7 linked regions of the Homo sapiens genome follow. The protein of the gene in region 7 interacts with the protein of the main gene of each other region in a pairwise test. Each region holds a gene or a part of one and is shown on either strand. Other genes may lie near its edges.

Evidence for each region.
Region 1: the proteins of CNTROB (region 7) and CWF19L2 interact in binary tests that used the Homo sapiens proteins (3 or more experiments, as listed by UniProt).
Region 2: the proteins of CNTROB (region 7) and PELI1 interact in binary tests that used the Homo sapiens proteins (3 or more experiments, as listed by UniProt).
Region 3: the proteins of CNTROB (region 7) and SMARCA2 interact in a two-hybrid assay, tested with the Homo sapiens proteins (one large-scale study listed by BioGRID and IntAct).
Region 4: the proteins of CNTROB (region 7) and TTC23 interact in binary tests that used the Homo sapiens proteins (3 or more experiments, as listed by UniProt).
Region 5: the proteins of CNTROB (region 7) and EPM2AIP1 interact in binary tests that used the Homo sapiens proteins (3 or more experiments, as listed by UniProt).
Region 6: the proteins of CNTROB (region 7) and APTX interact in a two-hybrid assay, tested with the Homo sapiens proteins (one large-scale study listed by BioGRID and IntAct).

Annotation. Positions count from the first base shown.
Region 1 is NC_000011.10:107,447,089-107,451,537, forward strand, and holds part of CWF19L2 (CWF19-like protein 2), read right to left. Parts: intron 1-4,449.
Region 2 is NC_000002.12:64,109,313-64,113,761, forward strand, and holds part of PELI1 (E3 ubiquitin-protein ligase pellino homolog 1), read right to left. Parts: intron 3,361-4,449; exon of another isoform or gene 3,251-3,360; intron 1-3,250. UniProt on the Homo sapiens protein: E3 ubiquitin ligase catalyzing the covalent attachment of ubiquitin moieties onto substrate proteins. Involved in the TLR and IL-1 signaling pathways via interaction with the complex containing IRAK kinases and TRAF6.
Region 3 is NC_000009.12:2,080,947-2,085,395, reverse strand, and holds part of SMARCA2 (SWI/SNF-related matrix-associated actin-dependent regulator of chromatin subfamily A member 2), read right to left. Parts: intron 3,565-4,449; coding exon 3,401-3,564; intron 2,050-3,400; coding exon 1,983-2,049; intron 1,311-1,982; coding exon 1,200-1,310; intron 1-1,199. UniProt on the Homo sapiens protein: ATPase involved in transcriptional activation and repression of select genes by chromatin remodeling (alteration of DNA-nucleosome topology).
Region 4 is NC_000015.10:99,242,133-99,246,581, forward strand, and holds part of TTC23 (tetratricopeptide repeat protein 23), read right to left. Parts: intron 3,379-4,449; 5' UTR 3,257-3,378; intron 1-3,256. UniProt on the Homo sapiens protein: Participates positively in the ciliary Hedgehog (Hh) signaling.
Region 5 is NC_000003.12:36,984,329-36,987,633, forward strand, and holds the end of EPM2AIP1 (EPM2A-interacting protein 1), read right to left. Parts: 3' UTR 715-3,305; downstream 1-714.
Region 6 is NC_000009.12:32,984,357-32,988,805, forward strand, and holds part of APTX (aprataxin), read right to left. Parts: intron 3,774-4,449; coding exon 3,727-3,773; intron 3,491-3,726; coding exon 3,188-3,490; intron 1,675-3,187; coding exon 1,615-1,674; intron 502-1,614; coding exon 275-501; intron 1-274. UniProt on the Homo sapiens protein: DNA-binding protein involved in single-strand DNA break repair, double-strand DNA break repair and base excision repair.
Region 7 is NC_000017.11:7,941,257-7,945,705, reverse strand, and holds part of CNTROB (centrobin), read right to left. Parts: intron 2,316-4,449; coding exon 2,182-2,315; intron 1,584-2,181; coding exon 1,458-1,583; intron 1,231-1,457; coding exon 1,068-1,230; intron 1-1,067. UniProt on the Homo sapiens protein: Required for centriole duplication. Inhibition of centriole duplication leading to defects in cytokinesis.

The sequences.
Region 1 (4,449 bases), on a different chromosome or scaffold from region 7:
CTGTCCTTGACAAAATAAATGGCATCAAACTAGAAATACATACAAATTGGAATAAAAATGAAACTACAATCTCTACAGCTTTTTATCTAAAGGCACTTTCTAGACTGTGGCATAGAGGGGTAACCCAAGCAGAACATGAAAATCTCACTGAGCAAAGGAAACGGAATTTGAACTTTGTGAAGGCTGAAACAAAAGTACAGATGGGAAGTTACACAGAGAAAGGGTGCCAGAAATCTACTTAAAGGACCCCTGGAGTCTTTAAAGAAAGACCAAGCTGAACATGCTGAGGATGAGAGTCCACAAGGTCAGGCAAAGAAAAATTACCATGGAGAAAACAATTACCAAAGAGCTGTAAGCAGAACAATCCCCAGAGCTCACAAAGGGCTGGAAGACATTCTAGTTCCTCCCAACCAGAATAAAGAAACCTCGCTGAACATCCATGACAATCAGCAGAGAACCCACAAAGGTCATGCCTTAGTAGAAAGGCTAAACCAGTCCTAGAGTAAAGCTATTCTAGGTGCATACGAACAAAACTTAAAAACAATCCTTGAAAAGGATTAAGCTAATTCACAAGTAATTAACTGTATGCCAAAAGGAAACTCAATACTCTCTGAAGAAGTCAACAAAATCCAGCAGTCACAATATAAGTTTCATAGGGTTCAGCATCCAATTAAAAGTTACTAGACATTCAAAGAAGCAAGCAAATGTGACCCATATTCAAGAGAAAAATCATTTAATTGAAACAGAACAGGAAAAAACAAGAGAAAATGAAACAGCAAACCAAGACTTTAACACAGCTATCATAAATATGTTCAAGGAAGGGAAAATGTAAAGATAATGAGGAGATAAACTGAAAAACATTAGAAAGATCCAAACGAAACATCTAATGATAAAAAAAAAATACAGTACCTGAAATGAAAATGTCACTGGATAGGGATAACAGTAAGCTAGACACAGCAAAAGAAAAGGCCAGTCGGCCAGGCGCAGTGGCTCACACCTGTAATCCCAGCACTTTGGGAGGCTGAGGCAGGCAGATCACGAGGTCAGGAGATCCAGACCATCCTGGCCAACATGGTGAAACCCCATCTCCACTAAAAATACAAACAATTAGCTGGACGTGGTGATGAGCACCTGTAATCCCAACTACTCAGGAGGCTGAGGGACGAGAATCACTTCAACCCAGGAGGCGGAGGTTGCAGTGAGCTGAGATCACGCCACTGCACTCCCGCCTGGCAACAGAGCGAGACTCCGTCACAAAAAAAAAAAAAAAAAAAAAAAAAGGCCAGTAAACCTGAAGCTCACGACATAGCAATAAAATATACCCAACCCAAGGCATAGAAAGGAAAAAGGCTAGAAAGTAAGTGAACACAGGCTCATCAACCTGTGAGACATTATTTTAAGGAGACTACCAAAATGAGAGGGAACAGAAAAAAAAAATACTTCGAAAAAAGCCTGAAAGTTTCATATTTGATGGAAACTGTAAACTCACAAATCAAAGCAGCACAATGAACCTAAGGCAGATGCTACACTCTGAATGTTTGTGTCCCCCACCAAATTCTTATGTTGAGATCCTGACTCCCAAGACAATGATAATAGGGGCTGAGGCCTTTGGGAGATGACTGGGAATGGGATTAGTGCCCTTATAAAACATAGCCCAAGAGCACTCCCTTCTGCCATATGAGGTTAGAGTGAGAAGACAGCCATCTCTGAGGAACTGAACCCTCATCAGACACAAAGTCTACCAGCGCCTCGATCTTAGACTTTCTAGCCTCCCAAACTGTGAGAAATAAGTTTCTGTCATTTATAATCCACCCAGTTAGTTTTGGTATAGCAGCCCAAATGAACTAAGACAGTAGAATAAACACAAAGAAATCAATACCAAGACATATCACAATTGATTCACTGAAAAATAATGATGAAAAAAAAAGCCCTAAAAGCATCCAGAATAAAAAGGCACACTACATACAGAGAAAAAATATTACAATGACTACAGAGTTCTCAATATGTACAATGCAAACCAGAAGACAATGGGATGACATTTTACAGTGCAAAAAAAAAAAAAAAAAGAAAACACTATAAACTTAAAATTCTTTATCTAGCCAAGTATCTGAAAAATGAAGATTGCTAGTAGGAACTTCTGAGTTTGTGGTAAAAGAAAAAAAGAATGAAGATGAAATAAAAGAAATTTTCAAACAAAAGCTGAGAGAATACAATGTCTGCAAATCCATATTATAATACATGTTAATGAAAGTTCTACAGACAAAAGGAAAATGGTATTAGACAGAAATTCAGACCTACATAAAATAATAAAGAATATCAGAGATGATAAATCTGTGGGTAAATATAAAAGACTTTCTTCATATGTGTAACTTATTTAAAAGATAACTGACTAAAGTATAAATAAAAAGAATGTATGACATTAAAAATTATAAACAATGTGGGTTTATAACATATGTAGAAGTAAAATATATGACAACAATAGCAAAAAATATGGTAGGAGAAAATGGAAGTATATTTTGGTGAAAGTCTAATTATAAAAGTAAAATTATATATTATTTGAGAGTATGGTAAGTTAAAATATGCATAAGACTTAAAGCAGTCATTAAAAATAAATAAGGTATACCTAATAAGCCTACAGCAGATGAAATGGGATGCTAAAAAACACTCGATCCAAAAGACAGGAAAAGGAAGGAACAAAGGAAAAAAGAACAAAGAAAAAATAGAAAAGGAATAACAACATGGTAGACTTAAACTCATCCATATCAATTATTACATTAAACATAAATAATCCAAACCAGTACTATTCAAAGAATTTTTCTATATACTGTCGAATATAGTAGCCACATAAATTTGGCTGATATAATTTTAATGAATTTTAACAAAAAATTTAAAAGCCATAAACAGCTAACAGATTAGAGAGCACAAAAAACATCTAATTGAAAAGTAAGAGACGTGAGCCAAGATTGCGGCACTGCACTCCAGCCTGGGTGACAGTGTGAGACTCCATCTCAAGAAAAAAAAAAAAAAGGAAGAGGCCAGATGCAGTGGCTCACATTTGTAATTCCAGCACTTTGGGAGTCCCAGGTGGGAGGATTGCTTAAGGTCAAGACTTTGAGACCAGGCTGGGCAACATGGCAAAACCACATCTCTACAAAATATATATAGATCATAGGCTAGAATATAAAATGTCTCAAAAACTTTTTAACAACTGAAATTATACAGAGTACAATAAAATAATAATTAAATCCAAAGTCAATAACCAAAAAAACCTAATAAAATCCACAAATATCTGGAAATTTAAAAACTCATATATATATATCCTGGACGTCGAAGTGCACACCCGTAGTCCCAGCTTTCAAGAGGCTGAGGTGGGAGAGTCACTTGAGCCCCAGGGGTTGAAGCTGCAGTGATCTACTACACTCTAGCCTGGGCAACAAAGCAAGACTCTGTCAATCAATCAATAAATCAATCAATCAATAAAATAAAAAAGAAGAAATTGATAGGCGAGATAAAAAAGCAAGACCCAATTATACACTGCTTACAAGAAATACACTTTCAATATATAAAAAAGGTACATTAAAACTAAAAGAATTTTAAAAAGACGATGAAAACACACAAAAAAAGAAAACTGAAGAGGCTTTATTAATATGAGATACAAGAGACTTCAGACAAGAGTATTACCAAAGATAAAAACGAAAACTTCGTAACAACAGTCAGTTCATCAAGGAGCTGTCTATGTACCTAATAAAGCTTCAAAATTACATAAGGCAAAAACTGACAAAACTGAAAGCAGAAATAGGTAAAATCCACAAAACAATTAAGAGATTTCAATACTATTTTCTCAGTAACTGACTGAACAGGTGAACAGAAAATCATTAACACTAAACTTAATACTATTAGTCAACTTTCCCTAATTGACATTTATAAAACACTATACCTAACAATGGCAGAATACATACTCATTTCAAATACATATGGAATTTTCACCAAAATAGATCATAGGCTAGAAAATAAAATGTCTCAAAAACTTTTTAAAAACTGAAATTATACAGAGTATAACATAATAATTAAAATCAAAGTCAATAACCCAAAAAAAAACTAGAAAAATCCACAAATATCTGCAAGTTTAAAAACTCTTATATATCCATGAGTAAGAAAAAGTAAAGTAAAAAATATTTTGAATGGGACAGCAATGAAAATATAACATCAAAGTTACGTAGAGATACAACAGTGCTATGAGAAAATTTTATAAAATAAATACACGTTAGAAAAGATTTCAAATCAGTGGCGATACATTCATCTTAGAAAGTTAGAAAAAGAAGAGCAAATTAAACACAAAGTATTCGCAAAGAATAAATATAGTTTAAATCAATGAAATAGAAAACACACAACCAGAGAAAATTCAAGGAAACTAAAAGGCAATAAAGAAAGATTAATAAAACTGATAAG
Region 2 (4,449 bases), on a different chromosome or scaffold from region 7:
CCTAGGAACATAATATGAAAATATCTAGTTTTAACAGAAAATCATTCATCCTAGCAAGAACAAGATTTAAAACAATGCAAAAGATAGGCTGGGTGCAGTGGTTCACGCCTGTAATCCCAGCACTTTGGGAGGTCGAGGCAGGCGGATCACTTGAGGTTGGGAGTTTGAGACCAGCCTGACCAACATGGATAAACCTGGTCTCTACTAAAAATACAAAATTAGCCGGGCGTGGTGGCACATGCCTGTAATCCCAGCTACTAAGGAGGTTGAGGCAGGAGAACCACTTGAACCCGGGAGGAGGAGGTTGCAGTGAGCCGAGATCAGTGCCACTGCACTCCAACCTGGGCAACAGAGCAAGACTCCATCTCAAAACAAAAACAGAAACAAAAACAAAAACAATGCAAAAGATAATCAATAGGTGCCAAAACTTAGATGACAGAATTACCTGACAAAGATTTAAAAGCAGCTATGATAAAACTGAACAGTGGAAATTACTCGATCTGAATAGAGAGAAAATAGGAAAAACAAAATGAAACAAAAAACAGAGCCTTATAGACCCGTGCGTGAGACTATAGCAAAATCTAACACGTGTGTCACTGGACACACATGTCAAAAAGACAGAAGAAAGAGTAAAGCTGAAAAAATAAAGAGGCTGGGAGCAGTGGCTCACGCCTGTAATTCCAGCACTTTGGGAAGCGGAGGCGGGAAGATCACTTGATGTCAGGAGTTCGAGACCAGCCTGGGCAACATGGTGAAACCCCGTCTCTACTAAAAATACAAAAATTAGCCAGGCATGGTGGTGTGCCTTGTAGTCCTAGCTACTTGGGAGGCTAAAGTGGGAGTAATCGCTTGAACCCGGGAGGCAGAGCTTGCAGTGAGCCAAAATTGCGCCACTGCACTCCAGCCTGGGCGACAGAGTGAGACTCCGTCTCAAGAAAAAAAAAAAAAAAAAAAAAGAAAAAATATCCTGGAAGCAGAGAGAGAGAGAGAACACTGCATTTATAACGACAATTAGACTGACAGTGGAGTTCTCATCAGAAACCACAGAACCCAGAAGATAGTGGCATAGTATTTTTCAGGTGCTGACAAAAATGGAAGGGAAGTCAAGACATTCTCAGACGAGGAAAAATTGAGAGAATTTGTTACCAGCAGACCCACTATAAATAAAGAATGGCTAGAGGAAATTAACTAAACAGAAAATAAATAAATAAAAGAACCTTAAAATATGAGATGTAAAAACACGGTAGCAAAAATATGAGTAAATACAATCGACTTTCCTTCTCTTGAATCTTCTGAATTTTGTCTGATGGTGAAAGTGAAAACTATAATACAGTTAGATGTAGTTCTAAATGTGTGTAAAGGAAATAGTTCAGAAAGGCCAAGGTGGGAAGATCACTTGAGGTCAGGAGTTCAAGACCAGCCTGGCCAACATGGTGAAACCCCATCTCCACTAAGAATACAAAAATTAGCAGGGCGTGGTGGCACGTGCCTGTAGTCCTAGCTACTCGGGAGGCTGAGGCAGGAGGATCACTTGAACCTGGAGGCAGAGGTTGCAGTGAACCCAGATCGCACCACTGCACTCCAGCCTGGGTGACAGAGCAAGACTCCATTTCAAAATATATATATATATATGTATTTGACACAAGTATAACAAAAAATTAACACTTCTGATCAGCCGGAAAATCACACAATAAATAATCCCCAAAATATTATCATGTCTTTTTCATCCTCAGTTTAATGGGATCAAGTATTTCCTGCATTTATTTCTCTCCCTAGTTCCTGATAGACCTGTTACAAAGGTTTCACAGCAAAACTCCTACTAGCTAGCCCATAAAAGTCTCCTCATTTTATACCTCCACCAACAGATTTCATAGGAATCTCATGAATGAAAAAGGTCTACTTGTCTTTTTCTACAGTACAATGAAATACAGCCTGTGTAGTGGCACTTTTGGTGAGAAGGCAACAGGGAATGTATGTAGCCCAATGAATAAGAACACGTCAAAGGAAAAGTCAATGAATAAAACAAATCATTCTGACCCCTACTAATCCCTTGGAAGTGACATACACATTTAGACCAGTCATTCACACTAACACACAACTACTATCATCAATAAATTCAAAAAATTATTTTAAAAAATGCTTCAGAAATATTTTAAGAAAAACATTTCCATCATTCAAATACACTAAAAACACCTCTCGTCACCCTAGATATATTTGCTTTTGCTGAAGAGATTTTAATTCATTACGGTATTTAAAAGGTTACAGAAACCAATATATTGCTATTTCACCATAACTGTGATACATCTGAGTTGTGAGGCAATCAGATTCCTTATTTAGAAAAATAAACTTATGCTAAGCTAACTAAAACCTTCAAGGTAAAAACTGAAGTTTCAAGAACAATTAAATCAACCAAAGAATAATTTTGGTTCCATATAATAAGATCTTCTGATATACATGAAATCATACTTTAGTATATAAACATGTATTCATGCCCTCTCATTTCCCCTCTAAGAAGCATTTCATTTAAAAAAGTTATACAGAAGCTTAACTAGAGGCATTAGCTGTGCTTTTTCTGTTTAGACAATTAAGGAACTGACATCAAACATGAAAACAATGCTTTGACACATTTCTGACGAAGAACAGCAATAATTAAAAATTTAATAACAATTAAATTTAAATTAATTTTAAATTAAATTTTAATAACGTTGCTTTGTTTTGAATTCCTATTTAGAGTTACTATTTAAAGGATATAATGGTTTTCTATTTATAGTAGCAAAAAATTTCCTTTAAAATAAGCTTATTTAAAGGAGTCAATTTAAATTGTATTAAATAGAATTAGTAAGTGCACAGATATGGCAAACATCTGAAAGTGTAAATGCCCGTATTTGGCTGACATTAGTATATCACATGGCTAGCAAGTATTAGCCTGTGTTCTAGTTCTAGCTGTCTTTGAACAAAGCAATCTGTTTCCTCATCTCTGAAAATGAAGGGACTAAAGTGGAATAAAGGGAATTTGGGAGCTGGAAAAAATATAAGCGACCATTTGGTCCTGACATAAGAATTTACAAGTAACGTGCATAACACTATAGATTTAGTTCTATTGCGTCTATAGCAAAAGAACAATTTTTTTGCTTAGACAAGAAACTAAAAAACAAGAGTACGGCTGGCATATACCCTCCATATAATTTCTAGAGCCCTTGGTCAAATTAGCCAAGAAAAACAATATATTTCCAATCAGACATATTCTTACTCTGCTTAGATCTCTTAGAAGGCCTTATCTGGGGATATTTTATCAGTGACATCAAAGTTTCAATCACAGGAACACATTCAATCTTGGCTTCTACTTCTGTATTTGATAATCTAAACCCAAAATAAAACACTTTTGTAGTACCAGTTATTTATATACATAAATGACCCAAGATAGTTTTCAAAATTTAAAAATGGCATATAATCAATCAATATACAACTGGCCTTATTAAACTGCAAATAAAATGCTGTGACAGCTATTCTTCCTGGAACTTTTTTTTTTATGTGTTCTCTGAAGAAAGATTCATGATCTTCCCAAAGGTTTATACTCTTTAACAAAGACCAGTACCTAGACAATGCTTTCCTACTCACTGTCTTTATATATTCTCTCTATATTTTAAAATCTGAGTAAAAGAATTCTTCAAAATGAATTCCTAGGCTGGGCATGGTGGCTCATGCCCGTAATCCCAGCACTTTGGGAGGCCAAGGTGAGAGGATCACTTGAGGCCAGGAGTTTGAGACCAGCCTGCGCAACATAGTAAGACTCCCGTCTCTACAAAAGATTTAAAAAAAAAAAAGTAAAAACAGAAAACATTAGCCAAATGTCATGGCATGCACCTATAGCCCCAGCTACTCAGAAAGCTGAGGTGGGAGGATCACTTGTGCCCAGGAGTTTGAGGCTACAGTGAGCTGTGATCCTCCAGCCTGGGTGACGGAGAGAAACTCTGTCTCAAAAAAAAAGAAAAAAAAAAAAAAATTCCTGAAGTCATGTACTTGAGAACTTTAAATGAGTATGTACATAAAAAACATCCGAATGTCTCGATTACTGGCTTCATTTGTTGGTCTTCAATTAAGTTAGTTTGACCTCATGTATTCAGCCCTATCCCAATGTTATCTAGCACCAAGAACATGAAATAGCACCATTAATTCTACTCAAGACTAGAAGAAATGCTAAAGAAAATCTTCCTAATAAAACTGTCTTCTATTTTATCTATTACTTTGAAACTTTGCTTGATACTCGAAAGCATGTTGCTCTCATTAGCAGGAACTAAACTTCCAGAGTTAAAAAAAAATTTTAAAATAAACATATTCTGGAATAGTGTTATTTTCTTTGTGGGCTGGGAGAACATGAAAAGTTACTCATAAAATATGTATTTATTAGGAATAGTATTATTAATTTGACTGTTAAACATTCTAATCATT
Region 3 (4,449 bases), on a different chromosome or scaffold from region 7:
TCTTTCTATAGCTCCATTTCTCCAGTAACAAATAAAAGCAGTGCATCTCATTACCAGGCGTCTCCAATGAATCTTGAAATACATATGCAGAAGACACAAGATGAATTTTTTTAAAAGGATCTCAAATGTACAAACACATTCCCATAGTAATATTGAAAACACATCATTTTTGACACTGCCAAATTCATCTCTGAGTGTGAGGAGGTGGAACACAGCATTGTTGCCAGTGCCATCTCAATTATTAAACCTCCCCTGGGAACACATTTCCTTTTTGTTATTTCCTATGATGCCATGAAGGGAACTCTCAGTTCCCAGAGCAAGAGTTTAATGCAGAGGTAGAATAGACCCCAGAAATAGAGGTTCTATTCAATTTTGGACATAACTTAGTTTCAGATTATAGTGCTTTCAAAACGTCATGGGGTAAAAAAAATTACTAAAGAGGAAAAAAAAGAGTTTTCATTATTTGTTCCACGAAAGAGAGCACTTCCATCTTTCTACATGAACGTATTAGAAGACAAGATGATATAAATGGGAGTAAAAATTTCTACTTTGTGGCTAAGGAACAACTTAGGACATAAAAATTAGGAGACATGTAAGTCACAGAAACACCTCTTTCTCAGTTTCAAATAAATAGTCACAGAAACAACCTTAAGTAACTCCAACAATGATAGTCTATTATTTCACCAGGAAAAACCTGAAACAAGACTACCACAAAAGCCACGGCTTGGATAAATGTTCATATGGTGGAGACCATATGGAGAGGTGTCTGGCTCATCTTTGGAGAAACAAAGGCACAAGAAGAATGAAGGTACACTGACAATATCTCAGGGCAACAAAAACAATTATTTCTTTCCCGAGAATGTGCAAAGCTGTTAGAGAGAAAAAGAGTTGCAGAAGCAACCAGGTGAATTTTTTTAAGAGATGTAAACTCATCAACTCTGAGGGGATAGACAAGAGCCGCCCCAGGATCAATCATAAACACACACACACACACACACACACACACACACACACACACACACACAGCATGCATGAAATCAAATCCACGACCAAAACATATCAAACTCTGAAAAAATTTTAGAAAAATAAAGAAAAGGACAAGCCATCTAAGGATCCAATTACACTACTGACTTGGGCAATACTTCACATTCCAGTGCAATGGTCCTAATTAGAGAGAAAATAATTTTTTAAAAACATACCTTTGCAAGAATGTGCTTGTCTTTTATAATATACTCATAAGTAGTCAAGAGGACATTGAATTTGCCACTCCGTAGCTGGGGGACAAGGGAGCGACGCATGGCAGGAGTACCCTGAATGGAAAGAAAAAAATACATGCATGATCCTATGGACATATATGTGCATTATTTCTCACTTTTCATAGCTTAATGATGCCCAGACATGTGACTGAAGAATGCACAGACACACATTCTCATAGACTGATCTATTATACACGAGGAAGTTTTGGCTAAATTACACGTCTTGACCCTTTTCAGATCTTTTTTTAGAAAGGTTTTCCCACCAAAGACAGTGGGAGGGCAAAGGGAAATGGAAATGACAGTGAATTTGTGGTAGTAGAGAACCCACCGCTCTGCTGAAAGGCTCCAGTTCTGTTGAGAAAGTACAGCAGGCAGCCCCGGGCATCCGGGTAATTGCCTGACTTTGCAGGAACAGTCAGCACAGTAGCAGCCCACAGCGAGCCAGTCAGCAGCACGCAGAATGTGTGATATTTGTCATTTGTATTACTCTCATCAGAAACCTTGCAATATGATAATTAACAATTTTCTTCTGGATTTCACTATCTGAAAGTAATTATGGTTTATTACAGTAATCTTCTTGGGATGATTAACTCTCACGGTTTAGTACATGATGTACATGACAAAACTTTACAACCAAATACAGTTCACAGATGTGCATATGGAATGAAGAAAATAGGGTCTATTTTTTGCTTTTCCACATTTATATATAAATACAGCATTCCAAACCTTGTAAGAAATCTTCACCACAGAAGGAGCCCATTTGTCAAATTCATATGTCCAGTTAGATAGAGTCCTATGGAACAAAAAAAAAAAACAACAGAAAAAAGACATTTGTATAAAAATCAATGGTTAAAAAGATGTTCTTATTCATGTTCAGGCCTCACCTTGAAAGGGGCTACAGAATATAACATATCTCAACAAGATATTTATTTTAAAGGTGTGGAAATAGGAGATAAGTTCAAAACAAACTGTCACAAAACATGACAAGTTTGTGGTTCATAAAAAAATCTTGTAAGAAAAAAACTAAAGAATACATAAATATAGAGAGCAAAAAACTAAACTGTAATATGATATTAAAAAAGAGCAATTGCCAGAATGATTTTAGGAATCTTCATAAACAGCCATATAGGTTCAGAAAAAAGATGAGTCAGGAAAAAGAAATTATAAAACCACATGAAAACATAAAATAAATCTGTCAAGAGGGAACAGGGGAAGAAATATTGAATGACGTTTTTTAAAGCCCTGAAAGTGTCACTGTATATATGATTCAGAACACGCAAAATATAGATCAAATGCAAAAGATGCCTAAATATTACAGATACAGATAATTCATACAAAAAGGGCTGCAAATAGTCTTCATTAGAAAAAATTCAAAGAAAACACAATAATATTAATAGAATCCTTCTTCTTACTGAAGGTCCAAGTTCATATCAGCATTGAGATCTATAACAAGACCTTGGTGAACAAAACTGCAACCTAACACCCACAGGCAGACACACTGAACTCCCAGGAGGGTGCTTGTGAATCACTGTGCCCTCACTCGGTAGTGCCCACTTAGGACCTTCTAAGAACCACCTAGCAGGTGAGGCACTGGGAACGTAATGGCGAACAGCAAACTCCTGTCCTTACTAAGCAGCAAACTCATTGAAACATAACCTCAGTGCACATACTAAGGTTATTTTAATGCAAAACTCCTAGTTATGATTTTGATTTATGTTCTGCTTTTAAAAGGAAGATTTAAGAATATATCATCTTTTGGAAATGGAATAAGGAAAAAATCAAAGAAATCACACACACACACACACACACACACACACACACACACACACACACCTTTCCCCTTTGTGAGCCACTTAAGGAATAATGATGAGCAAGACTCACTATGCAGTGTTCAGGCTGTGCAGACCTGTAATGCTGATGGCCGATAAAATCACTCGGTCCCGTGCTTAAATAGCCAATCAAACAGGCTAGGATGGGGAGGGGTGGGAAATTAAAACCTAAATCCAGATTACATGCTCTTGGTAATCTGGATTTAGGTTAGTACATGCTACAATTCTGTCTTAAGTAAAAAACAAGGACAAGCTACTAATCGGGCACTCTACAACATACAGAACGATGACTGTGGAATAAATGACTTTACTTACGAAAGGGGAACAATGATGAGATAGGGGCCATTGAGTCTTTTGTGCTCCATCAGATAAGTGATGAGTGCAATGGTCTGTATGGTCTTTCCAAGCCCCATTTCATCGGCTAAGATTCCGTTCAAGTTGTTATTATACAGGGAAACCATCCATTCCAGGCCCTGGAGCTGAAATGAAGAGTAATTGCTTCAATTATCCAAGATCTGCACAGGTAATTAATCCTAATACAACCCAAGTGAGGGTGTGACTTCTTAACTCCTCACTGCTGTATGTTGGGTTTCCCACAGTAGGAAAATGGGGGAAGCACCAATGCAAAAAGAATGTAAAATATGAGCCTGATCATTCTCTCCATGAGTAAGCTTTCTCTCTTCTTGCTTCTTGACAGGTGAGTTTTAAAGCAGCTTTGCCGCTCATCCACACTTAGTATTTCACAGTATGTGACATTCTAGAATTATTATAAATGAAAAAAGCCCAAACCAAAATCTAATCCAACCACTCCAAGAATAAAAAGCCAATGTGAAGGCAGATTTGGCACACAGATCACAGATTATTAAAAACAGCCTTTTCGGTAATATGGGTGAGGTCCCCTCAGTGAAAAGGCGGACTGACCAGGGAGCCAGGGACACTCTGCTGGGACCACAGGAGGACATTTCTCTTCCTGGCAGAGAGAAAGTTCCCAGACAGCACATGGGAACTTTGTAATGTGAGTACTACCCAAAGGCTGCACACTGGAAGCTGGCAACTGGAAACATGCTCAACGTATTTCTGAAGTACAAAAACACTGTACCAGAGATTCCCCACGTTAAGTACAAAAGTAAGGTTGGGTGAAAATACAAAATTGTTAAACCTCCATCCCCCAACCAACAATTCCCTTCCACCATCATACCACAGATGCTGGATTTAAATGATAGGATCAATTATATATATGTTTGCTAAAGTCAATTTAGCTTGCTAATGATGTTATGCTTAGGGAAATGTTAATTTTTTATGTAAGAACAAAGCAAGCAATTAGTTTATTTAAAATATTTATTAAATGACTATTCTGTGCAAGG
Region 4 (4,449 bases), on a different chromosome or scaffold from region 7:
GAAAAAAAAAAAAAAAGTTAAAAAAAAGAAGCCATTATGACTAGTTTCTTAACTAGTGAAAGTGTACGCTAGTTAAGAAGCAAACTTACCCATATGTAAGCTAACGCACTGGAAAAACACTCTAAAAAGATAAAAAATACCAAAAAAATAGTGATAAAAAAATAACAGAAAAATAGAAAATCTGAATAGATCTATAACAAGTAAAAAAATTAAATTAGTAATTAAAAATATTTATACAAGGTTAAGCCCAGGCTCAGATGGCATCAGTGATGTATTCTACCAAACCATTAAAGAAGAAACAACATGAGTATTTTGAAAACTCTAACAGAAGATAGAGAAGGAAACTCTCACTTGTTCTATGAGGTCAGTATTACCCTGATACCAAAGCCAGACAAAGACATCACAAGAAAATAACAAATGAATACCCTTCATGAATATGGACACAAAAATCCTCAACAAAATATTGGCAAACCAAATCTAGCAACATATACAAAGGATAATACATTATGATCAAGGGGAGTTTATCCTAGAAATGGAAGGTTGGTTTAACATCTGAACTCATTAATATAATACACTATACAGTAGAATGTGGTCACAAACCATCTGATCATCTTGATAGATGCAGAAAACACATTTGGCAAAATCCATTATCCAATCATGATTAAAAAAACTTCCCCAACCTGATAAAAGGCTGATAAAAGCCTGATTTTACAAATCAAAGTGGATTAAAGACTTAAATATAAGACCTGAAACTATAAAATTACCAAGAGAAAACACTGGGGAAACTCTCTGGGACAGTGGTCTGGGGAAAGAATTCTTAAGAAAGATCTCAAAAGTACAGGCAACCAAAACAAAAATGGACAAATGGGATCACATCAAGTAAAAAAGCTGCTGTATAGCAAAGGAAACAATCAACAAAGTGAAGAGACAACCCACAGAATGGGAGAAAATATTTGTAAACTACCCATCTGACAAGGGATTAATAACCAGAATATATAAGGAGCTTAAACAAAACCCAATAGGAAAAAAAATCTAATAATCTGATTAAAAAGTGAGCAAAAGATCTGAATAGACATTTCTCAAAAGACATGCAAATAACCAACAAGTATATGAAAAAATACTCAACATCACTGATCAGCACAGAAAGGCAAATCAAACTACAATGAGGTCATCTCACCCCAGTTAAGATGGCTTTTATTAAAAAGGCAGTAACAGATGCTGGTGAGGATGTGGACAAAGGGGGACACTCATACACTGTTGGTGGGAATGCAAGTTATTACAGCCACTGTGGAGAACAGTATGGAAGTTCCTCAAAAAGCTAAAAATAGAAGAACTACCATATGATCCAGCAGTCCCACTGCTCCATATATATCCAAAAGAAAAGTATATCAGAGATATCTGCACTCCCATGTGTACTGCAGCTCTATCCACAACAGCCAAGATTTGGAATCAGCCTAAATGTTCATCAACACATGAATGGATAAAAAAATGTGGTAGATATACACACAAAACAGAACGAAATCCTGTCATTTACAGCAACATGGATGAAACTGAAGGATATTATACTAAGAGAAATTAACCAGGCAGAGAGAGACAAATTTTGTATGTTCTCACTCATTTATGAGAGCTAAAAATTAAAACAACTGAACTCATGAACACAGAGAGTAGAATGATGATTACCAGAAGCTGGGAAGGGTATTGGGCAGGGAGGGAAAAGTGGGGATAGTTAATGGGTACAAAACGTAGTTAGATAGAATGAATAAGATCTAGTACTTGATATCACAACAGGGTGACTACAGTCAACAATAAGTTATTGTATATTTTAAAATAACTAAAAGAGTAGAATTGGAATAATTCTAACACAAAGAAATGATAAGTGCTTGAGGACACAGATACCCACTTACTCTGATGTGATTACTATACATTGTATGCCTGTGTCAAAGCATCACATGTATCTCATAAATATATACACCTACTACTATGTACTCACAAAAATTAAAAATTAAAAAACAAAACCAAAAAATCCTGATTTACAAAAACCTAAAGCTAATATCATACTTAATGGAGCATGTTTGAATGTTTTCCAAGATTGGAAACAAGGCAAGAATGATTTCTCTCACCACCTGTAGTCAAAGTTGTGGATATTACAGTCAGAGCAACAGGCAAGAACAATAAATTAAGGCATGAAGATTAGAAAGGGAGAAATAAAACATTATTATCAGCTGACATAACCCTCTATGTAGAAAATCCTAAGGATTCCACAATAAATAAACAAATAAATCGCCCCCCCCAATTAGAACGACTAAATAAGTTCGGCAAGGCCATAGGATACATAATAAATAAATAAAATTGTATTTTTATATGTCAGCAATAAATAATCTGAAAATAAAATTAAGAAAACACTGATTCAAAATAGGATAAAGAGAATAAATATGTAGGAATAAATTTAACAAAAGAAATACAAGACTTGTACAATGAAAATCATACATTATCGAAAGAAATTAAAGATCTAAATACATGGACATTCCATGTTCATAGATTAAAAGCCTCAATATTAAGATAGAATACTCCTCAAATTGATGTATCGATTTAATGTAATATCCATCAAAACTCAGCTGTTTTTTTGCAGAAATTAACAAGTTGATCCTTATTATGGATGAATTAAGATGGAAATACGAGACTAAGAATAAATAAAACAATCTTAAAAAAGAAGTTGGAGGACTCACACTTCCCATTTTTAAAATGTACTATAAAACTAAAGTAAAAGTAATCAAAAGTGTTGTACTTAAAAATTTTCAGTTATGAGGTAAATAAGTTCTAGAGATATACAGCATGGTAACTATAGAAAATAATTGAAATTTGTTAAGATCTCAGATGTTCTCATCACACACACAAAAATGGTAATTATGTCAAGTGATGAATGTGTGAGCTAGCTCTATTGTGGGAATCATTACAAAAGGTACACTTATATCAAAACACCATGATGTTTACCTCAAATGTATATAATTTTTAGTTTGTCAATCATATTTCAATAAAGCTGGGGAAAAGCCCTCCCCAAAACAACGTGGTGGTACTGGCATAAGAAATGACATATAGAGGCCGGGCGTGGTGGCTCATGCCTGTAATCCCAGCACTTTGGGAGGCCGAGGTGGGCGGATCACTTGAGGTCGGGAGTTCGAGACCAGACTGGCCAACATGGCAAAACGCTGTCTCTACTAGAAATACAAAAAATTTAGCCAGATTTGGTGATAAGTACCTGTAATTCCAGCTACTCGAGAGGCTGAGGCAGGAGAATCGCTTGAACCTGGGAGGCAGAGGTTGCAGTGAGCCAAGATCACACCACTATACTCCAGCCTGGGTGACAGAGCGAGACTCCATCTCAAAAAAAAAAAAAAAAGAATTAATATATAGAAAAATGGGATAGTGTTGAGAGTCCAAAAATAAACTCTTATATATGTGAATTATTTTTTTTAACAAGCATGCCAAGATAATTCAATGGGAAGAGAACAGTCTTTTCAATAAACAATAAACAGTGCTGGTACAACTGGATAGATACATGAAAAGAATAAAGTTGGATCTCTACACCTCACACCATATACAAAAATTAACTCCAAATGGAGTAAAGACTTAACAGTAAGAGGTAAAACTATAAAACTCTTTGCAAATATAGGAGTAAATCTTCATGAACTTTTTTTTTTTTTTTTGAGACAGACTCTCGCTGGAGTGCAGTGGCGTGATCTCGGCTCACTGCAACCTCCACCTCCCAGGTTCAAGACATTCTCCTGACTCAGCCTCCCTGACTCAGCCTCCCAAGCAGCTGGGATTACAGGTGCCTACCACCACGCCCAGCTAATTTTAGTAGAGACGGGGTTTCACCCTGTTGGCCAGGCTGTTCTCGAGCTCCTGACCTGAGGTGATCCACCCGACTTGGCCTCCCAAAATACTGGGATTACAGGTGTGAGTCACAGGGCCCAGCCTGTTAGGCAAAGACTTCTGAGATATAACACCAAAAGCATAAGTGATAAAAGAAAAAAAAAGATAAATTAGATTTCATCAAATCCAAATCTTTACTGCTTCAAAAGACACTATTATTAAAGTTAAAAGACAACCCACAGAATGGGAGACAATATTTGTAAATCATTAATCTGATAAAGGACTTTAACCACAATATATAAAGAACAATTAAAAATCAGTAACATGGGGCTGGGCGTGGTGGCTCACGCCTGTAATCCCAGCACTTTGGGAGGCCGAGGTGGGCAAATCACGAGGTCAAGAGTTCAAGACCAGCCTGGCCAACATGGTGAAACCCTGTCTCTACTAAAAATACAAAAAATTAGCTGGGCATAGTAGTGGGCACCTGTAATCCCAGCTACTCAGGAGGCTGAGGCAGGAGAATCGCTTGAACCTAGGAGGCAGAGGTTGCAGTGAGCTGAGATCGAGCCACTGTAC
Region 5 (3,305 bases), on a different chromosome or scaffold from region 7:
AAGGACAAGGCCACATCATTAATTTTGATTCCCAAGTTTACAAGCACTATGTCTAGTACAGAGGAGAGTGAGAAGGAACAGGGAAAGGGATAAAGGGTATGAGGTAAGATGGTAGGAAGAAAAAGGGTATGTGTGCAGAGTATGTGTGGGTGCAGAGTATGCAGGGTCTCGTAGGCCATGATAGACATTGGACTTTAGTCTGATTGTGATACAAAGCCATTGGTGATTTTGAGCAGACAAGTGGTATGGTCTGATTTATATGAATATACACACATACACACATATTTTGTTTTGCTTGAGACGGAGCCTTGCTCTGTCGCCCAGGCTGGAGTGCAGTGGCATGATCTCAGCCACTGCAACCTCTGCCTCCTGGGTTGGAGCGATTCTCCTGTCTCAGCCTCCTGAGTAGCTGGGATTACAGGCATGCACCACCACACCTGGCTAATTTTTGTATTTTTAGTAGAGATGGGGTTTCACCATATTGGCCAGGTTGGTCTCAAACTCCTGACCTTAGGTGATGCACCTGCTTCGGCTTCCCAAAGTGCTGGGATTACAGGTGTGAGCCACCGCGCCTGGCCTAATTTATATTTTAAAATAAGGATCACTCTGAATGCTATGTAGAGAATAAACTATATGAGGAAAATATAGAAGCAGGGTACATACCAAAGAGTATGCCAAGAATGGGTGCACATGCTCACTGAAAGACAGATGTGATCATTTTCATAGTAACTTTATTCATAATGACCACAAGCTGGAAACAACCTAAATTTCTATCAACGGTAGAATGGGTAAGTTGTGATGTAGTCACACAATGGAATACTACACAGAAGTAAAACATGAACTGCTACTACATATAACATGGATTACTCTCACAGATACAATGTTGAACAAGACACGGAAGAGTGCATATAATTATTTCACTTACATAAAGTTTTAAAACAGGCAAAACTAATCCGTGGTGATAAAAGGGGTTGGTGGGGGCCTGGGGAACATAAGGACACCTACTGAAGTGCTAGAAATATTCTATATTTTGACCTGGGTGGTGCATTCAAGGGCATATATAAAAACCCACTGAGGTGTACACTTAATATCGGTACACTTTTAAATTTTACCTCAGTAACAAGTTGAAAATATATTGGAAGAAAGCATATAAATGAAGATGTTAATCAGTGGTGTTGTCTTCCAAATATTTCTGGTTTTTCTCCCAGGTATATGCAAGGATCACACTCCTCCTAGAACTTTAATGTGGCTATGTGATTTGCTTTGGCCAATGAAAGTCCTTTAAGAGTCCTTAAGTGATTTGCCATACTCTTTTTTCATTTCCCAAAGTTAGCACCCACACTCCTGATGGTATCTGCTTTGTCAGCCTGAGACCCAGAATGAAGGCAACTTAGAGCACAAATTGGTGAACTTTCTCTGTAAAGGGCCACAGAATAAGTATTTTAGGTTTTGTGAGATGTACACACTCTGTAGCAACTACTCAGCTGTGCCATTGTAGAACCAAAGTAGCCACAGATAATAAATAAATGGACAAGGCTATATTCCAGTAAAACTTTATTTAGATAAATAAGGAGCTAGACAGATTTTGCCCATGGACCATAGTTTGATCATGGCCAACCTATGATCTAAACCAAAGTCCCTAGGCAAGTTGCAATAGAAAAGTTGTGTGAGACAGTGAGATTTTGCCTTTGTTATTCAATGGCAAGCTAGCCCATGCTGACACAGAAATTGGTCCCTTGTTTTTTAAAATGCTAAAATACTGAACACTGGCTTAATGGTTAGCTGGCAGGCATTCAGGAAATTGCTATCAGAAGATGGAAGAAATAACTTACACAAGGGTAATTTATATTATGGAAAGGTGAAACTGCCCCTTGAGATAACCTGAAAGGCAGATCATCTACCCTTTACTAAAGAAAAAGACAGAAAAACAAAATATTTTGTAGTTGCTGTTCACTGCACTTGACAAAACGTACAGAAGAGATGAACTCAGAAAAGACTGGTCAGTTTGCAGGCAAAAATGAAAAGGAAGAGAATTCAAATTCAAGTACTTACTGGGTAGGATGAGGCAACATTTTAATATCAAAAAGAAAGATAAAAATGGGAAATCCTTTTACAAATAAATAAAAAGAGAAATCCTTTAGCCAAAAGGTTGATTAAAAGCCAGTTTTGCCGCCGGGTGCAGAGGCTCACACGTATAACACCAACATTTTGGGAGCCCGAGGCGGGCGGACTGCTTGAGTCCAGGAATTCGAGACTAGCCTGGGGAATACAGCAAGACCCTGTCTCCACATAAAAATACAAAAATTAGCTGGGTGTACTCGTGTATACCTGTATTCCCAGCTACTTAGGAGGCTGCAGTGGGAGAATTGCTTGAGCCAGGAAGGCAGAGATTGCATTGAGCTGAGATTGTACCTCTGCACTCCAGCCTGGGTGACAAAGTGAGACCCCGCCTCAAAAAAAAAAAAAAAAAAAAAAGCCAGTTTTGCAGCAAGCACCAAATCACTGGATGACTATGACACCTACTGTTAAGATCTCTGAATGACTTAATATGCCTCAGACTAAAACTCCAACTAAGATTATACTAGTTAATCCCATAAATTGGTCAAAATGGCTTAAGGAAACAGACTAAGGGTGTGGCTTTCCCACCTAAGCCTGAAAAGCCTCAGTTACCCAGAAATTAAGTTCAGAGAGGCATGGGAACAAGAAGGCAAAGGAATACAGCAAACTTTAGAAGTATACATTAACTAGATGTCACTTTTGGGTCATCTCCCTTTGGGTGATAAGGACATTCTGCAGGTGTAAAAACAAGTGAACTGAATATATAGTGACCAGAAGGGCTGAGTCAGTCTTCTACTTTGTTAAATTTACTTACTTTTAAATCCCAGAAGAGCCAAAAATCATCTGTAAAGGAAAGTAGCAAGTAAATAGCATGCCATTTTCTCCTAGTGTTGATGCCTACAAAAGGAAAAATGATTATTAACTCTTAGGCGGCATTATCTTTTTCCAATACTAAATGTAACATTTAGTAAAAACATATTGTTTTAGTTCACTAAGTAGTTGTCTAATCTTTTCCCTCTATATGTAGGTTCCTTTGGAAATTTAAAAAAAAAAAAAAAATATATATATATATATGACACTGTTTACAAAGGGTAAAAAAAAATAAGATTCTATACATGGATATGCAAACTTAATATTACATAGTGGATTTGGTGTGTATATTTGGTTTTGAATCCTGAGTTTACTACTTACTGTGTTTACCAGGGAAAACCGCAATTTGTTATCCTTCTCTCCTTTCATACAACAGA
Region 6 (4,449 bases), on a different chromosome or scaffold from region 7:
GCTGCTTCATCTAGTTCATATATTAGGCTCTCGAAGATTTATATTTTGAGAGGAACAAAGAACCAAATATGACTGAATTATAGGCAGAAGTGGGAACTCAAAGCTTGCATGCAAGTCAGGCAGAGAGGTGGAAGCTTCAGCCCACCTGCTTTGGAAAAACTCCATCCCACTTCCCTGGGTCTCAGTGCAATATGTGCCCTCAGCAAGCCCAGGCTGAATCTATCTGCCCACCTGGACAGAACCAGGAGCCAGCAGCACTACCCACCTGGCTTACCTCATACTCGGAATGGCGTGGTAGCCCAATCGGAAGCGGAGTTTGCTGGACCCAGCAAAATCTACAATCACCTTTTCCCCCACAGTGTGCATATGCTTAAGGAGTTCAAGGTGTTCCCTGGCCACAGCCTTCAGACTGGAAATGGAGGTCCACGGTAAGACCAGCCAATGGTAACGGGCCTTTGGGTATTTATCCTTTATCACCACCACCTGCTCATCTTTGTAAACCTAGCAGAGGGATACAAGAGAAGGAAACAGACATCTACTAAGAATCTTCTGTGTGCCTGGTTGTTATATTCACTAAGTCACTTAATTCCCACAGTCTTGTGCAAATGGTTTTAATAGCCCAGTTTTGAGAGAGGAGAGCACTGAAATTCAGACAGGTTGAGTGTCTTGCACAAGTCATAGTTCCTAAGAGGGAAATCTAGGATTCCAACTCAGATGTGGTTGACTCCAGAGTCTGTTTTCAACCACCACACTACACAGAATACACAGAAGATGCACAGTACAAAATAGTTCCCAAGAATGTGATGTAAAATCTCTGTAGACATAAATTCAAAAGCATCCTTCTCCACTCCAACATGGCAGACTGTGTGACACGTACACGTGGGTTCCAGTGAGCCCTATTAGACCTGCCCCTTGTCAACAAGGAATATAATTGAAGTGGGACTCAAAGGCTCCTCAAGGATGATGCCTGTTTTTTTTTTTTTTTTTTTTTTTTTGAGATGGAGTTTCGCTCTTGTTGCCCAGGCTGGAGTACAATGGTGCAATCTCAGCTCACCGCAACCTCCACCTCCCGGATTCAAGTGATTCTCCTGCCTCAGCCTCTCGAGTAGCTGAGATTACAGGCATGCACCACCATGCCCAGCTAATTTTTTGTATTTTTAGTAGAGACAGGGTTTCTCCATGTTGGTCAGGCTGATCTCGAACTCCTGACCTCAGGTGATCCTCCCGTCTCGGCCTCCCAAAGTGCTGGGATTACAGGGATGTCTGACTGTTAATGCCAGGGCAGCACAGTACTACTGTCACAGTGTATTATCTCTGATGCTCCCCTGAAAGGAACCATACTAAGGTTAATGCAACTTCCCTTAAAGTACCCAGAAGTTTAAAAGGCACAAGGCAGAGGGGATATTCATTTGAAGAACTCAGCTTTCTCTCCAAACAATGACAGCTGCTACTTTATTGCCAATGTGAAAAGCCTCTTGTTCTCACAGAACAGCCCAATAAAATGAATCTCATTCAGAAAGACTGATATCCTTTGATTTCATTTGTAATTAAGACCTCTGTGGAGTGGTCATTTACAACATGAAATGTACTGAAATTCCAAAATTGTATTCTGACCTGCATTTTGGGGTCCTGCATAGAAATCTTCAAGCCTTGACTCCAGTGGCCCAGGGATTCCTAAAAAAAAAACAAAAAAAAAAACAAAAAAAAAAAAAAACAAGCAATGTAAATTACAAATGCCAATAATTAAATTTGGCAACAGTTAATACTGTGTGATAGCACAACTAAACTTGGAAATAAGCTTAGTTTTTGAGAATTAAACAAGATTCACTTGACTCTGCTTCACTCCATTGCCTTCCTATATTCTCTTTTTTTTTGAGACAAAGTCTCACTCTGTCTCACCCAAGCTGGAGTGCAGCGGCGTGATCACTGCAACCTCCGAAGTGATTCTCCTGCCTCAGCCTCCCAAGTAGCTGGGATTACAGGTGCCCACCACCACGCCCAGCTAACTTTTGTATTTTTTAGTAGAGACGGAGTTTCACCAGGTTGGCCATGCTGGTCTTGAACTCCTCACCTCAGGTGATCCACTGGCCTCCACCTCCCCAAGTGCTGGGATTACAGGCGTGAGCCACCACACCCGACCCTATATTCTTTCTTTTTTTTTTTGAGATGGGGTTTCGCTCTTGTTGCCCAGGCTGGAGTACAATGGCGTGATCTCGGCTCACTGCAACCTCTGCCTCCCGGGTTCAAGCGATGCTCCTGCCCAGCCTCTGGAGTTGCTGGGATTATAGGCATGCACCACCACGCCCAGCTAATTTTGTATTTTTAGTAGAGATTAGGTTTTGCCATGTTGGTCAGGCTGGTCTCGAACTCCTGACCTCAGGTGATCTGCCCATCTCGGCCTCCCAAAGTGCTGGGATTACAGGCGTGAGCCAGCACACCCAGCTGTTTTTTATTATTGTTGTTGTTTTTTGAGATGGAGTCTCGCTCTGTCGCCCAGGCTGGAGTGCAGTGGTGCAATCTCAGCTCACTGCAACCTCCGCCTTCCAGGTTCAAGCAATCCTCCCGCCTCAGCCTCCCGAGTAGCTGGGATTACAAGCATGTGTGTACCACCAGGCCCAGCTAATTTTTGTATTTTTAGTAGACATGGAGTTTCACAATGTTTGCCAGGCAGGTCTCAAACTCCTGACCCTCAAGTGATCTGCCCACCTCGGCCTCCCAAAGCGCTGAGATTACAGGCGTGAACCACTGCACCCAGCCAGCCTTCCTATATTCACAGCTGGCTGTTCTAAATGAAGGCGAGAAATGCCAGAGTATGAGTCATACCTTCTTTGCCCTCTCTCACTGCAGCTACAGCCTGACCAATTCTCCACTTTGACATCAGCATATGAATTACATGATCTATGAAAACCTTCTATAGATGCATAAACAACTGATCCACTTTAGTTGTTCAATGTTAAGTACACACTGCCATTATTGTTGTACCTTCAGGTGGCTTACCTCAGGAATTTAAGAAAAAAGCACATAAAGGAACATTCATCCAAATGATTTTCACGCCACAAACAAGTGACTCTTTCATCATGGTTAATAACCCCTCACGCATTTCTGAACTTTAAAGTGTACAAAACAATTAAGCAGTCATTATATTTCATTTCTTCTCCACATCATCTACCAATCACACTACCCTCACCTTTTTGATAGGTGCATCTTTTCCCTTCTTTAGGGGCACAGAGCATTGGCCAGAGTTGCTCCCAGGTTCCAGCCCTGTCCCAGCCTCAGCTTCCTGAGCAGCATCCCTTTCTATAGAATCACTGTTGCCTGATCTCTTTCTCTTCCTGTGTGTTTCCAGGCCAGGGTTCTTTGCCTCTTCCTCAAACTCTACAATATATGGATAAAGTTCATTCACCATGTGGAGAACCTGGCCAGGCTGCAGCTTCACCTCTTGGTCCTTCCCAATTACGACTGAGTCAATGCTGGTGGGATTGACTCCTACCTATGGAATAAACAATCAGAAAATAATTATAATAATAGCAACAGCACCTACAGTAAGATAGCCACTGCTATGTTAACCACTTACTATATGCCAAGCACCTTGCCTTATGTTCACCTATATTACTCCATCACTTCCATACATGACAGAGAAGCCTTCACTGGCTGGCACAGACACTCTAAAGTCAACAGCATAAGAAAATCATCGAGTATAAAATTCCAAGTTATAAATACACCTACCTGCTTTACCTTGACATATCCCTTGTTACACTCTGCTTTCAACTGTACTGAAAGAGATTGGAAAAAGTTAAACACAAATGCAACAAAGAACCAGGCACTTGCTCCTATCTTCCCTAAAGAAAACAAGCTTCACTACAGGCGGCAGCTGAACAGGTGGTGTTTCCTTAAAGGCCTATTAGCAATCACCTGTTATTGCAGGTGGCTGGAGCTCCAAATCCTACCAATTTCTAAAGGTTTAAATCCTTCCATAAAATGTCCAACAGCGTACATACTCCCTTAGCTATTGCCAAGATCCCTATGAGGCAGCTTCAATTAATCCCCACAAGTTTCCCTATTCCAGAACCCCTGGCCTGCTCATGATCACAGACTCTGCCGCCAGAAAAGAAGACCTGTTTCTCCCAGCCTGGGCAGCATGGCAATACCCCGTCTCTACAAAAAAATACAAAAATTAGCCAGGTGTGGTGGCACATGCCTGTAGTCCCAGCTACTTGGGAGACTGAGGTGGGAGAATCACTTGAGCCCCAGGAGGTGGAGGTTGCAGTGAGTCAAGATCGCACCACTACACTCCAGCCTGGGCAACAGAGTGAGACCCTATCTCAGGAGGAAAAAAAAAAAAAAAAAAAAAAAAAAAGATCCATTTCTCACACGAACTCTTGACCAAGGATTAAATCAGGCTTCCACTATTATTTTGGAAAAACAACAACTATTAGATGCTTTAAAAGA
Region 7 (4,449 bases):
GAAGGGTCAAAGCACAGTAGGTTTAAAGAGATAAGACATGGTACAAACACTTTAATAAGATTATAAATTTCCGGATGCAGTGGCTCACACCTGTAATCCCAACACTTTGGGAGGACCGTTTGAGGCTGGCAGTTTGAACCAGGCTTGGCAACATAGAGAGATGCCATCTCTACAAAAAATTTAAAAATTAGCTGGGGGCAATGGCACGTGTGTGTAGTCCCAGCTACTCAGGAAGCTGAGGAAGGAAGATTGCTTGAGCGCTCTGGGCAACAGAGTGAGACCTTGTCTCAAATAAATAAATGATAAGTATATAAATAAATAAAATTAAAATTAAAATATCCTAATTTTTTCTTCTTTTTCTTTTTTTGAGATGAGGTCTCACTATGTTGCCTAGGCTAGTCTTGAACTCCTGAGCTCAAGTGATCCTTCTGCTTTAGCCTCCCATATAGCTGAGATTACAGGCGCACCACCACACCTGCTAGAATTTCATAATTAAAAGAAGGAAGTGGGAAGTATCAACGTATGAAGGGCTAGGAAGTGAGACTCCCTACTCTACTCTGGGGCAGGACTTGGCAACAATTTTTGGCCCTTTCCCTCATAATTAATTCAGCTGTCCCTCCACAAAACTAGTACCACGTATCATTTGTCCCCTCTTGGGACTGGGAGACTAGAGTTATGCCCAATGGAATGGGGCCAGTCTGAGTGAGCTATGGCCATGGAAAAAAGGATTTATTTTGCTGAGGCAGTTATTATTTGTAAAGTCCACCGATTTTTCTCCCCTGATGTAGGCCTTAGGAGCTGAACTTAGTACTTCCCTTGGGAGGGAGCTAGATTTCCAAAGAAGGAATCTAGAACACAGTTCTTGCTGGGCATGGTAGCTTATGCCTGGAATCCCAGCACTTTGGGAGTTAGAGGTGGGAGGATCACTTGAGCCCAGGAGTTCGAGGCTGCAATGAGCTATGATCTCACCAGTACACTCCAGCCTGGGCAAGAGTGAGACCCTGTCTCAAAAATAAAAATAAAAATAGAACATAACGGAGAAGCTTAGCTCAAGGGGTAAGGCGTACTGGAGGGTTGGGCGGCGGGAGAGTGGTGCTGAGCAGCTGGTTGGCCTCATCCCAGTGGGCCTGCAGCATGGCCTGCAGTCTTTCCACCAGCTCCACCCGCTGCTCCTCCAGCTGCTGGTTCCCACTCTGCAGTTCGCACACTCGCGCTTGCTCCCGGGCCAGTCTGAAGCAAAGAGAGAAGAAGTGACTCAGGGCCTTTAAGGAAGCAGATACTTGGGAGCTAAAAAGAGCCAGAAGGGAAATGTTGGACATCTGATATTCTGAAAGGAGCTGGGGCCCATGTAGAGGAGGACAGATCAATCAAGGGAGCAGCTCTTCACCGTTCCCAGTTTGGGCTCTACCCATGGGAAAGGGGCTGGGGCCTGAAAGGGGCACTCTGGGGACCAGGACCTGAGCTCGTAGTCCTCAGCCACCTGCTGTTGCCGTTCCTCTCGTTCTGCCATTTCCACCTTGAACTGAGCTAGCTGACTGGCCAGCTCCTGCTGGTGCTGTCCACTCAGGTCCTGCAGCTGCTTCCTACAGGGCACAGGTAGGAGAAGAGGCCTGAGACTGGAGACAGAAGAAGTGACCAACTGAGAAAAAGACATCATGTGTGCACATGACAGTGACCCAGATAGCCAGTCAGCTAGCCTGGCCATGGCACAGGAAGCGGCAAGGACAAAGCTGGGGTCTTAGGATGGGTTCCTCAGAAGCAGAGACTTAAATAAATTTATTTCGGAAGCAGTTCCAGAAAATCTCGGCAGCAGAATGGGTGTGAGGAGAAGTGAGGCCAGGCTGCGAGGAGGCTCAGTCCGACAGAGCAGCTCTGGAGACAGCACAGGTCATACCTCAGCACTGTCCCAGTGAGGGAGCTGGACCATCTATCATTCTGCACCCATCAGTTCTTGGTTAAGGGCTACTCCCTATGGGATGAAAATTCCCAGGCACTTCTGGCTCTCCATGAACGCGTGAAGGCAGCCCTCCCGAGAGAGACTCAGGTCCCAGCTGATGGGAGTTAGCGCACCCTGGGAGTCACAGTGCTGGACCATGGCAAAGGGATTGAAGGGAACACAGGCCTGGCACTAACGATACGTGCTGTGGCTGAGAGAAGTGACACCCAGTGAGTCCCACGTACCTGTGATGTTCCCTGAGGGAGGCTGCTTGCCGTAGGCTGCTCTCCTGAGCCTGCGCCAGCCGCTCTGTCACCCGCTGCTCCAGCTGCACAGCCAGCTCCGACTCCAGCTGGATCCGCTGGCTTTCATACCGGGCCTGGAGTGAAGGAAGGTGGGATAACGGCCCAAATCTGTTTGGGCTTAGAAGAGGATGGAGGATATAATGTAGACAAAATCCAGTACCAACTTTCCCCTCATATGAGATGAAGAACAAGAATTTTGCCTCAAGGAGTGAAAGAGGTTCCCTTTCCTTATTAAGATATTCGCACTTTAAACATACATCAAAGTGAAAATGACTATGGGTGAAAGACATAAATTTCTTAGCTAAAATAAATGTTCGACAGAGCAATCAAATCCATTCTACGTGTCTGATATAACATACCCTGAGGCTGGGCGCGGTGGCTCACGCCTGTAATCCTAGCACTTTGGGAGGCCGAGACGGGCGGATCACGAGGTCAGGAGATCGAGACCATCTTGGCTAACACGGTGAAACCCCGTTTCTACTAAAAATACAAAAAATTAGCCGGGCGTGTTGGCGGGCGCCTGTAGTCCCAGCTACTTGGGAGGCTGAGGCAGGAGAATGGCATGAACCTGGGAGGCGGAGCTTGCAGTGAGCCGAGATCGCGCCACTGCACTCCAACCTGGGAGACACAGCGAGACTCCGTCTCAAAAAAAAAAAAAAAAAAAAAAAAAAAAAAAATACCCTGAGTAGAGTACCTGAAAGCCAGTAGACATTCAATAAATGGCAGTGCCTCTTCCTCCTTAAGCAGTCAACCTATAAGTGTCTCCATTTTCTCAGCCACAGTCCTTCAACTCACTAAAATCTGATTTCCACGTATAGTATTTTACTATAAAGAACTCAACCTCTTTTTTTTTTTTTTTTTTTTTTTTGAGATGGAGTCCCTCTCTGTCACCCAGGCTGGAGTGCAGTGGCGCGATCTCGGCTCACTGCAACCTCTGCCTCCCGGGTTCAAGCAATTCTCCTGCATCAGCCTCCCAAGTAGCTGCAACTACAGGTGCGTGCCACCACGCCCAGCTAATTTTTTGTATTTTTAGTAGAGACGGGGTTTCACCGTGTTAGCCAGGATGGTCTCAATCTCCTGACCTCGTGATCCACCCGCCTCAGTCTCCCAAAGAGATTACAGGTGTGAGCCACCGCGCATGGCCCAAAGAACTCAATTTCTAAATCCAAATAGTGGTTATTTCTCAGCCCCTACTTCTGAGACAGAGTCTTGTTCTGTTGCTTAGCCTAAAGTGCAGTGGTGTGATCATGGCTCACTGCAGTCTTGACCTCCCAGACTCAAGAGATCCTCCCACCTCAGCCTCCAGAGTAGCTGGGACTACAAGCTGGTGCCACAACACCCAGCTAATATTTTTATTTTTTGTAGAGATGGGGTCTCATTATGTTGCCCAGACTGGTCTCAAACTCTTGGACTCAAGCAATCCTCCCACTTCAGCCTCCCAAAGTGCTGGGATTACAGGCGTGAGCCACCACACCTGGCCCTTTCTGTCTTTTTTTTTTTTGAGACTCGGTCTCGCTCCTGTCACCCAGGCTGGAGTGCAGTGGTGTGATCACGGGTCACTGCAGCCTCTACTTCCAGGGTTCAGTTGATCCTCCCACCTCAGCCTCCCGAGTAGCTGGGACTACAGGTGCATGCCACTATACCCGGCTAAGTTTTTGTATTTTTAGCAGAGTTTAGGTACTGCCATATTGCGCCCAGGTTGGTCTTGAACTCCTGGGCTCAAGCAATCTGCCCGTTTCGGCCTCCCAAAGTGCTGGGATTCCAGGTGCGAGCCACCACACCCGGATGCTTTCTTAGTCTTTATCGCATGTGATCTCATTGTAACACCTGAAGCCCTAGGTCAATTCTTTTTTTTTTTTTTTTTTTGAGATGGAGTCTCACTCTGTTGCCCAGGCTGGAGTACACTGGTTCAATCTGGGCTCACTGCAACCTCCACCTCCCGGGTTCAAGCGATTCTCCTGCCTCGGCCTTCTTAGTAGCCGGGACTACAGGTGTGCACCATACACCTGGATAATTTTTGTATTTTTAGTAGAGACAGGGTTTCACCATGTTGGCCGGGCTGGTCTCAAACTCCTGGGCTCAAGTGATCCACCCGCCTTGGCCTCCCACAGTGCTGGGATTACAGGCATGAGCCACCATACCGGGCCAAAGGATTGTGGTTCTCAAATGCTGGCCTCACTGGTACCTCCTTAAGTTAACCATTTATAA